3 linked regions of the Homo sapiens genome follow. The protein of the gene in region 1 purifies or fractionates together with the protein of each later gene. This does not show direct contact. Each region holds a gene or a part of one and is shown on either strand. Other genes may lie near its edges.

Evidence for each region.
Region 2: the proteins of ROPN1 (region 1) and MBNL1 purify together in Homo sapiens (affinity purification with mass spectrometry; 2 studies listed by BioGRID and IntAct, with this or other methods). This does not show direct contact.
Region 3: the proteins of ROPN1 (region 1) and PCNT purify together in Homo sapiens (affinity purification with mass spectrometry; one large-scale study listed by BioGRID and IntAct). This does not show direct contact.

What each region holds. Positions count from the first base shown.
Region 1 is NC_000003.12:123,971,773-123,975,229, forward strand, and holds part of ROPN1 (ropporin-1A), read right to left. Parts: intron 1-3,457. UniProt on the Homo sapiens protein: Important for male fertility. With ROPN1L, involved in fibrous sheath integrity and sperm motility, plays a role in PKA-dependent signaling processes required for spermatozoa capacitation.
Region 2 is NC_000003.12:152,429,277-152,432,928, reverse strand, and holds part of MBNL1 (muscleblind-like protein 1), read right to left. Parts: intron 213-3,652; coding exon 9-212; intron 1-8. UniProt on the Homo sapiens protein: Mediates pre-mRNA alternative splicing regulation. Acts either as activator or repressor of splicing on specific pre-mRNA targets. Inhibits cardiac troponin-T (TNNT2) pre-mRNA exon inclusion but induces insulin receptor (IR) pre-mRNA exon inclusion in muscle.
Region 3 is NC_000021.9:46,428,599-46,432,250, reverse strand, and holds part of PCNT (pericentrin), read right to left. Parts: intron 2,242-3,652; coding exon 2,019-2,241; intron 1,745-2,018; coding exon 1,594-1,744; intron 723-1,593; coding exon 36-722; intron 1-35. UniProt on the Homo sapiens protein: Integral component of the filamentous matrix of the centrosome involved in the initial establishment of organized microtubule arrays in both mitosis and meiosis. Plays a role, together with DISC1, in the microtubule network formation.

The sequences.
Region 1 (3,457 bases):
CTGCACCCCTAATGCTTTGTTCTGTTGCCCTCTCCCATGGGGTGCTGGTATGGGCTGAATTGTTCCCCCTAAAGTTCATGCCAAAGCCTTAACCCCAGAACTGGAGAATGTGATTGTATTTGAACATACGACCGTTAAAAAGATAAGTTAAAATGAAGTTAGTAGGGTGTCTTTATAAGAAGAGGAGTTAGGATATAAAGAGAGAGCCACCAGACATGTAGGCACAGAGGAACACAGTTTGAGAAGCTGGCCATTTTTAAGCCAAGGAGAAATGCCTCAGAAGAAAGCAATCCTGCTGACAGCTTGTTCCCAGAACTGTCCTCCAGAACTGAGAGACAACAAATTTCTGTTGTTCAAGCCACCAAGTCATGGCAACAAACTAACATAGCGGCTTTCAACCCTAAACATCATCTTTTATTGATTATTCAAACTACAAACCTTCAAATTCTACTGCCTCATAAGATTTTTAAGTATTTTTAAAGATTTAATAAATGGATGAGTGTATAAATAACTCTTTGGACTGGAGCTATTTGGTAAACTGACATAAACCTAAAGTAAACAGATCTTCATTCTCTTGCACAATATTTTTTTGGGATCCGCTTCACAGACATAATCTTTAAGCATCTTGCGAGCTTCATTTTCAAAGTTAGAGGTGAAAGCCTTGAAATGTAAATCGTTTGCTAACAAATATGTCATTCCTTCCAGTGAACATGATTATTTTCTACATACGTGATCTCTTCCTTTTTTAATAATCAGTTCAGTGGAACAGGAGGTGGCATAGGCCAGTCCAGAGGAAGGAGTGCTGAAGGGAGGAGGAATACAGGTCTGCATGCCATCGCATTCTGAATAATGTGTATTAGACGCAGAGAGCTCAAGATGGAGTAAATGTACCTATTACCTACCAGAGTAAAAATTCCTGTTACTAGATCTTCTACAAGGAACAAACTGGCTTTTCTGAATGGCATAGAGATCTTGTCTTGCTATTGAATTGGCAAAGGAAAGAGAAATTCTGGGCTTGCCTCTAAGGATATATGAATTAACTAGGATGCAAGGTCTCCACCAGATGGTGACCCCTGACTTAGTCTCAGCTATAATAAAATACCTTAGACTGGGTAATTTATAAACAACAGAAATGTATTGCTCACAGTTTTGGAGTCTGGGAAGTCCAAGACCAAGAGGCCAGCAGATTTGCTCTCTGGTGAGGGCCTGTTCCTCATGAATGATGCCTTCTATGTGTCCTCACTTGGTGGAGGGGCAACTTTTATAAGGGCACTAATCCCATTCATGAGGGCTCCACCCTCATGACCCAATCAACTCCCAGAGGCCCTACTTTTAAGGCCATCACCTTGGAAGTTGAGATTTCAATATATGAATTTTGGGAGAACACAAACATTCACACCGTACCACTGGCCAACCCCACATTTAAGATCCCAGAAACAGTCCAGCTCCAGCATGATAGAAATGAATATAAGGGTATTGATTACTGGTTTCATAGGACACCCTTTATTTGCAGATTTAACCTCCAGGCTGACTTTATCTCTAGGGGTTCTTTGACATGGGGATGATGAGGAGCAAAGTCAGATATGTCAAGGCCTCTTAGAATTGGAGGAGCTCACTGTTATTCAGAGGTGGGCCTGAGGGTGTCTCAGAGGAAGCAGAGAAGTGGGGATAGAATCACAGGATGTCAGAGGTAGATGAACCTCATGGAATATTGAATCCCACCTCCTTATTTTAGAAGGGAAGTAGAAAGATTCAATTCACCTCATGGTTTCCCCTCTCCAGTTTGGGAGGCAGGTACATCAGAGGAAACCTAGCATCTACACCGTGGGCTAAGCAGAGGGAGGGTTGGAATCTGACTTTCCAAAGTCACTCTTTGTTACTGTGAGGTATGGGGATAAGGGAAGAACTCAGACACACCACACACTGGTGAGGGTCTGTGAAGTAGACCACCAGAGCCAGGGAGCAGATAGGACAGCCTGGCAGAGAATCAAGGAGGCCCTCGACACCATTGAGAACTGAAATGAGCCAGTTGGGGAGGCATCATCAGCCTTTCACCAGTCCGGGAGAGACGAGACCAAAAACTTAAGCTGCAAGCAGCTAGCGACCAGACAGACAGGCATTACCATGGAGACCAGAGATGCCAGGGAAGACTAAGGGATGTGAGAAACCCTTCACTTGACTGCTCTGTGGTCCTAGAGTCAGCTCTTTCTGCCTACATTCAACTGCCATCTTGGAGAAGAGAGCGTGGTGAGGAAAAACCTGAGATACTGGGAAATTTACCTTTAGGCTGTTTCAGTTACTGCATCAGACTAAAATTTCAGGATTGGATTGAATTTATTTATTTTCTTATTTGACCCTTTGTGGGTGGGGTAGACCAAGAAGATCCAAATTAACTACAGATAAAATTTTAAAGGTATATTTTCCCCCAAAAACGTCTCCAAATGTGGTGTGAAAAAAATCTGTAACCCTATGAGAATTTAATAAAATATGTTCATTTTTTATCTTCCTGTTTGTGATTTTCCCCAGTCCTGACTGACAACTCATAGGCCTCTGCTGCTTACTTTCCTTTCCTCCTCAGAGGATAGTGATTTATTCAGTAATAAATGCTATAAAGGACAATGAAGAAAGTGCCACAAATGTCCTCTTGTTTACTTCTCTCTAAAGAAATGATTATGATGAAGGCTGTAGGGGAATCTATAGGAAATTTGGACTACAATATTTCCACTAAATTTTCTCAGAAACAAACCTGTCAAATATGTATTCCAAGCATATTTGAGAAGAACAAGATTATGTTTAGATATGCTGAATGATTCAGACTACCTTTTCATACCATTTGGTTTTGGCAGAGGCAATTATTTTCTCAATAATTTTCAAACTTGTATGTATCTCAGGGATTCTTTTAAAAAAACACGTTTTTGATTCATTTTAAGTTATTTTAACAATGTTTAGCAATGTAAGTCCACATATAAGATACCCAAGCTTTAAATATCTATACATATAAGCTGATTTCAGCATCTTTGGCTTCAAAACAGTAAAATTGCATTTCCAATATCAAACAAGTCAAATTTGGAAAAGGCATAAATCTGTATGAACATCCTGCATCCATGGAGATGTCATGACTAAATTCAGAAATAGCCTCATCTCTCTTTTTTTTTGCTTTCTTATGTCTGAGTTCTGCATCCAATTCTGTTTATTACATAGTTTTCGATAAGATTGTACCCCTTTTAAACAGTGTCTATTGATATATATTCTAGGTGTCTGGAAGTCTTTTTCTACAGTCGGCTCTTGGTTGTCTCTGGGAATATGAATGGAAGGAGCGGAGTGAAAATAAATCTGAGGGCAATATTCATAAATAATCCAAGAGCTACACTGTAGTCAACTCTCCCCAGAGCCTGACCACAGTGTTTCCCTCTCTCCTCCTCCCAACCCCTGCCACTGCCTGACGAGCACAGAAATG
Region 2 (3,652 bases), about 28 Mb from region 1:
ATTCCTACCTCAAGTCTGTCTGTTCGCATTAATTTCTGTGCAGCAGCTGCAGCAGCTGCAGGTACAGGGACACCCGGATTCCCTGTAACCAACATTGGTGCAGTCGGCAAGATCTCTGCCGGGACCAGGCTTGGAGAAACAGGTCCCAGATAGGGATTAAAGGCGGCTGCTGATGCATTGGTGGCTAAGCTTGGTGCAACTGAAAACATTGGCTGAAAAATAAAATAAAAGCAAAATTTAACATGCAGGTCTCAGCTCAAAGTTGATATTCTTAATTATACATTTGTCCTCCATCCATCTATCCATTCTTCCTTAGGCCTTCCCTCCTTCCCTTTAATCCTGTGTTCATTTACTATCATTTAGGGTAAGGCTGTTTTATTAAATAAACATTCATCAAATCAATGTTTTTCTAAAATATAATAAGTAAAATATCCATTAAATTATTCACTGGAATTTTGTAGCTGAGGGTCTATAATACTTGTATTTTTTTTTTGAAAAATAGATAAACTATGCAGAAACTTCTTGTGGTCATCTAATCTTCATCTTTGTCCTGATTTAATTCTAGATATTTGTCTAACAAATACATTTTGTAATTGCTATGTCAGATGTACTTGAAAGACCTGTTTACAACTGTTAATAGGTTGCAAGTGTCCTATTATCTGGAATAAATAAAGTAGAACTCCCAGGGGATAAAAGAGTTTCACAGTCAATGTAAGCTGTAAATAAATCTCATGGGGTATGTGAAAGGTGATGATGACACCTTGCCTTTTGAGCACATAAGATAAAGTGTTTGGTATATTTACTTGATGGTGATTTTCCTGGGGGAAATTATAAGTGTTCCACTAGCCTATCACACCTTATTAGGGGAAAACAAGTCTGAAATGTGAAGTTTGAAGTAGAACTGCTACTAAAGAAATGCTACATGATTGGTCAAGGAAATACATATGGCAGCACTGAATAAACTGCTACAAGACAGAATTTCTTCCAGAAATGCTTTCGTGGATATATAAGGATTGTTTCTATTTGTTGATATGCAAACTTGCATATCATAAAATATATTTGTTCTTGAATAGCATTAATTTACCTGAAATCTAACAATTTGTTTTTCTAGTATTTAAAGTATAACAGAACACAATTTCATACCTTATTCATAGTACATTTTTAACTTCCTAATAGAGTCTCAATTCTAATTCTTGAAGTTTAATGCTTCGTTTAATAATGTTTGTTTCTGAAACACAAAAGCTTGTAGGCAAAACGGATGCTGTTCTTTAAGGTAATATTTAACAATTTATTTTCTTTACTCAGCAGTAATGAACAGAATTATAGAAGACTCTTTAGAATAAAAGAGACATTAGAATGTATTAATAACTAATTCTGCCATCTGACAGGAATAAGAAGTTACATGATATCTGAATATATGTAGTATTCAAGAGAGCTCTGTAGTAAAACTTTTTGCAATATAAGGTATATATTACAAATGTAATTCTTATAGTACAAAAGAAATTTGTTAAAAGATAAAATATATCCTCTATTCACTCTGGCCCTGATTCTATATTTAGAAAAATAAAATGAATTTCAAGTATTCCCTTTTTCTTAGGGCAGTGGTTTTCAACTGAGTTATTTTGCCTCTCAGGAGACACCTGGCAATGTCTAAAGACATTTTTGGTTGTCACAGCTGGAGGGGAACTATTATATTCAATGGATGGACGCCAGGGATGCTGCTAAGTGTCCTACAACATACAAGACAGCCCCTCGCAACAAAGAATTATCCAGCCCCAAAAGTCAATACTGTCAATGTTAAGAAGGCCTTTCTTAGGGAACTCTTCTGTTGACCTCAAAAATTGCTTGGGAAACAAACTCTTTGCATTTAGCTATACATTTTTACTAACAAAAATATGAAAAAACAGAATATGTAATACCTAATGTGATTCATTGAGAAGAAACAATACAATATAGATTATACCATTTCAACTTAAAATAATTATGCCTCTGAACATGTTGGTTTGAATGCCATGTTTAGCTGCTCTGCCAGGTCGATGGCTCTTGCCTGATGAAGTGCCCTCAAGTAGCACCTCTAATCCCCAACCCCTCCCAGCACAAAGCAGCAACCTGCAGACAACAAGAACTATCTGTGCATTCCAAATCTTATCAACAAGCTGTCAGAAACTAGGGCCTAGGGCATTCTCTGTCCACCAACACTTCCCTGAGCCGCAGCTGACTTAATGCTGTGCCACTGTCCACTCTCTGCCCAGGTGACAGCAGGACAAGGATTGATTGTATACTGAATATATGTTGAACTTGGATTTCTATTCAAGGATATTCAGGTTAAACTTGTACTTTGTTATACATTGTCAGATTGCATATGAAAATCCAGCCAGACCAGCACCCTAATTTCTATATTAGTCATTTAAGAATTATAAGAAATTTAGCATAGAAGACTAAAAGAGTCTATGTCAGGGGACTAACAGACTAGTTTAGCAAATGGACAACAGAAGCTATTCATTATCATTCCTCTTTGCATTCTTTTACTATGAATAAACATGTATTTCCAGATAGTGCATTTTTAATGTATACTTCAGAAAGTTATTGAGATGTTTATATTATTGCACATAATCTACTATAATTATTTAAAAGCAAAGGTCAAATTTAAAAATGTTTTTGGAAGAAAAAGCAATTTTTATTTTAATAAAATGAGACCAGAGGCTAATAAAACTCAGCTCTCTAAATCTCGTCAAATAAAATACACTGGAAATCTAAAAATGCATATGATGCAGCTGTTGCACATTACAGGCAGAATAATACTTTTATTATGTAAAAATACTGCTTTTAATAACTGGCAATAATATTTCCTGAGTTGTTTCTATAGAGTCATCAAGACAATTGATCTTTCACTTTAATTCAGCAGAGCAAATTCAAATCTGAACAATTTTAGGGCACTGTCCCCAAGTAAAGTCGGTAGGAGCGTTTAAAAATGTGAAACATCAACTATTCAGCAAGCACTATCTCAAATTGTTCCCTCTTTCGATAAGTAGAGCTATTTGCCGAACAGGCAGACAATCAGTAACAATAGCTTTATACTTTGAAACTTGATTCCAAAAGACAGACAGACAGACAGACACACACACACACACACACAAACACACACCATTCCTTCATTTATTTTAAATTTTTGTAAATTTGTTACATCACTTTAGTTATATTGTTTTTTCAAGGAGCGCCATGTTGAAGATAGGTCACTGCTAGCCCCATCAGAGAGTGCCCTAATCAGAGAAATCAGATTAGGAAAGCACTTGACCTGCACTACTGCCAGTTTTCTATTCCAAAAGCTAACCTGCAGGGGGTTCAGCAGAATCTCAAAGACAGATATTAATGCAATGTTGTTATCAAGTGGCATCCTGTTTTCTCTGAAGGATAACATATAACAATGTAATTGGTATATTTGATACTGACTATATTCTTGTGATAATGATTTGTAAGTATCTCTGTTCCTGAAAGACATAAGAAAGTTTGGTTTATAATTGCCTTTTGCCAATGAACATCCTCATCAGAGAAAAACAAAGTACAAACTTACTAATTCTGGTGCTGTTTATGGGTTAATCACTTGTTTGTTTTAAATCAGACATTGATTCCATTAAGGTAATCAGACTTCATT
Region 3 (3,652 bases), on another chromosome or scaffold:
TAGGTGTGGACGCTCCGCCGGCAGGCGGCTCTCACCAGCTTCTCCTTGTCTCTCTGCCACTTCCTCCACTGCTCCGCAGCCGCTGGGCTCTGCCTGGCCTCCGCGCTCCTCCTCGCAGCCTTGCGTCCTTCTTGCTCTTTCAACCGTGGGTGTGACTGCTCTAATTCTGCCTGCAACCACGCTGGTTTCTCCCTCTCTCTCTCCAGAGAGCATCTCAGCTCTCGTTTTTGGGTGTGCAGGGCTTCCACCGTCGACTTCAGTGTGGCACTTACCTCCTTCTCTCTCCTGAGCGCCTCACAGTGCTTCTGAGCCTCAGCCTCAAGCTGCTGCTGAGAATGCAGGGCTTGCTGCTGCACCTTTTCAAGCATCGCTTGCAAGTCCACCACCCGGGACTTCTCCTCCTTCAGCTTCTGCAGCAGAGCGTGATGGGCCTGTGTGTCCTGGTGCACGCAAGCCTCCTGTGTCCTCTGGCTCAGCTGCTCGGTCAGGAGCCGCTCGTGCCGCAAGGCCTCTGACAGCTCCAGGGTGCGGCTCTTCTCAGCCGCAAGGTCCTTCTGGAGCTCAGAGAGCTGGCTCCGCTCCTGAGCCAGCAAGGCCTCGCAGCGTGAGTGCTCGATACGCAGCTCCTTCTGCAGGTTGTCCTTGGCCGTCTGCTCGTGTTTCAGTGCCACGCAGAGTCGACTGCTCTGAGCACGCTGTGTCTCCAAAGACGCCCGCAGCTCCTAGACAGCAAACACATACGATGGGAGACACTGAATCAAGAGGAAAAGTGTCTACATGGTTTTCCTGTCCACATTTGTTTATATACTTTAGCCCAGCAATTCTACCTTTTGAAATGCACCCTATTAGCCACATGTAGGGACAACATTTTTTTGTTAGTTCATCAAGTAACAAAAAACCCAGACTGCGGAGATGACATACTTTTTTCGGAAATGGTGTTGAGTCCTGGGTTCAGAGATGTTCCCAGTCTGTCCCTCTCCAGAAAATGATTCAGAGATGTCCCCTGCCCGCCCCCTCTCCAGAAAATCACTCCACCAGAGGCTCCTGCCCCCTCTTCAGAAAATCACTCCACCAGAGGCTCCTGCCCCCTCTTCAGAAAATCACTCCACCAGAGGCTCAGAGATACACACCCAGCTTGCTAGGAACCACCACTTCCATGCTGTTGAAAGCCATAACCCATGGAACTGGCACAGACTTGCTCAGAAGCCACAGCAGGCCTGCTGGGCCTCCGCCATGCAAAGCAGAGGCCCCACCACCAGCCTGCCTTGTGCACAGACCTCTGAGGCTGTGCTCTGTCTGGATGCCAGCGAGGAGGCTGTGTCCATCTCCACAGCAAGTGCTCAGGGACGGGGGGGGGCTCCGAGCAGGGGTATCGTGCCACCACGGGTCATCGCACTCTTCGCCCTGTGGTGGCTGCCACTACACCAAGGTGCAATTTTACCTGCAAACACAGCCCTATCCTGCTACGTCACACTGCTGTCAACTGGGTGCACTGCCATGAAGAACAGGAAAAGAAGGATGAAAGAGGAGCATGGCTTCAGGCTTCCAGTGCACACAGCCCATGCCGGCTGCCTTGCCCTGACACCCTGTTACCTCCAGGGCCTTGGCACTCTGGCTCTCCCTCTGCAGGTGCCGCAGCTGCTCCTCCTCCAGCTGGCTCTGCAGGGCACGCCCCTTCCCCTGCTCACTCTCCAGCTCCTGAAGCGCGGCCTTCAGCTCGTTCTCCTTACTGCTCAGCATGGATCTGCGTGGAGACATCGCAGAACAATCTGACCACGTGGGCCAGAGTGTGTTCCCGGGGGCTGGGAGCTCCAGGAGGGGAGGCAGAGCCCTGCCAGGTCCCACACGTGTGCTTCACCCCCCACCACAGGATTATCAACCCAGGGACAGCAGGGCGCGGTGCCCCTGGGGCTGCCCAACTGCGGCCCACCAGAGGTTCTGTCTCCCTTCATCACCAAGAAAACATGGCACAACGGGGGGACTCCCGCCAGTGTCCCAGGAAGGGGGATCAGGCGCACCTCAGCTGGAGGACCTCCTGCTGCACCTCGCAGAGGGACCGGGACAGCTGTTCGCTCTTCTGCCTGCTCTCACAGAGGTCGGACTTCAAATCTCGCACTACAGTCTGCTCCGCCGCCAGGAGCTTCTGCACGCTGTTTGCCTTCTCTTGCTCTTCACTCAGCGTCTTCTGCAAGTCACCAGCAATGCACTTCTCCTGCTCTACTTTATAAGCCAGCAGTTCAACTGAGAAAGACAAAAGAACAGTAACAGGCCCCCATGAGCTCCTCGTGCTGCACAAGTGACACCAGGTTAGAGACAGACTCGTGGGGGCGTGAGGTGTATGTGCTTCGGGAAGAAAGGAGGTTCTGTGGACTAGAAGCTTTCACTGCGGGTGGAACCAGGATGCTCAATTCTGCCCTCTGGGCCCATTTCCTTCCAGGGCCCACCCACCTGGCCGGGAGACACAGAGTCCAGGAGTGATATAGCCCTGGGGCCATCCTAAAAATGCCACCTCACCCCCACTCACACCCTAAACTGCCTCCAACAGAGGGAACTCCAGGCCCAGGTGGCTTTACTGGAAAATTCTCCCAAAACTTAAGGAAGAAATAACCCCAATTCTAGACAACGGAGGGCGGAGGGGCTACTTCCCAAATACTTCCCGCACCCCGTGGGGCTGGCGCTACCCAGCACCAAGACCAAAAAGGCACAACAGAAAACAGACCAGTGCCCCTCACGAGCACTCAGACAGCACCGGCCCACCACCCCCATGCCCCTCACGAGCGATCGCACAGTGCCGGCCCCCCTGTGCCCCTCACGAGCACGTGCACAGCGCCAGCCCCCCCATGCCCCTCACGAGCGCTCGCACAGCGCCGGCACCCCCTGCCCGTGCCCCTCACGAGCACGTGCACAGCGCCAGCCCCCCCATGCCTCTCACGAGCGCTCGCACAGCGCCGGCACCCCCCGCCCATGCCCCTGACAAGCGCTTGCACAGCGCCAGCCCCACCCATGCCCCTCACGAGCATGTGCACAGCGCCGGCCCCCAGCCCCAGAGAGCACAAAGGGCATGGGCGCCGGGACAAGGGCCGTGGGCTGAACTGCAAGGCCGTTCCCCTTGACGGAATCCAAAACTAGGAACAGAGGGCACTTGCCCAAGCTGACCAAGGGCGCCTGACCCCACATGCGATGGTACGAGACCAGCTCCTGCCCCCAAAACTAAGAGCAGGGAATGGCATCTGCCCACACAGCTGACGGCACAGCACGTGAGAGAACACGGGCAAGAAACAAAAAATCGTTACTTACCCACAGATGACCTGAGCATCTACATAAAAACTCCCGAAGAAGCTAAATTAAATGTAGAAACCTACGAGACATTCCTGAACTCTAGCATGAGCTCCCAAGAATCTGCCAGCACTCAGAGCCCAACCCAGGCCCCTCTTGCCCACATCAGGCCCAAGAGTGAGGCCTCCGTGCCAGCCCCACCCAGCGCTGCCTGTCTCCAGGGTCCTTTCTGCTCAGTCCTATCAGCTGACAACCATGGCAACACTCAGGGGCTTGACTAGATGATGCCCTGTCACCACCCTCTGCTCCCAAGGCCACACAGGTGAGTGTCGGGCGGGCAGGTGCAGAGGCCGGGCCCCAGGCAGTGTAGACAGTG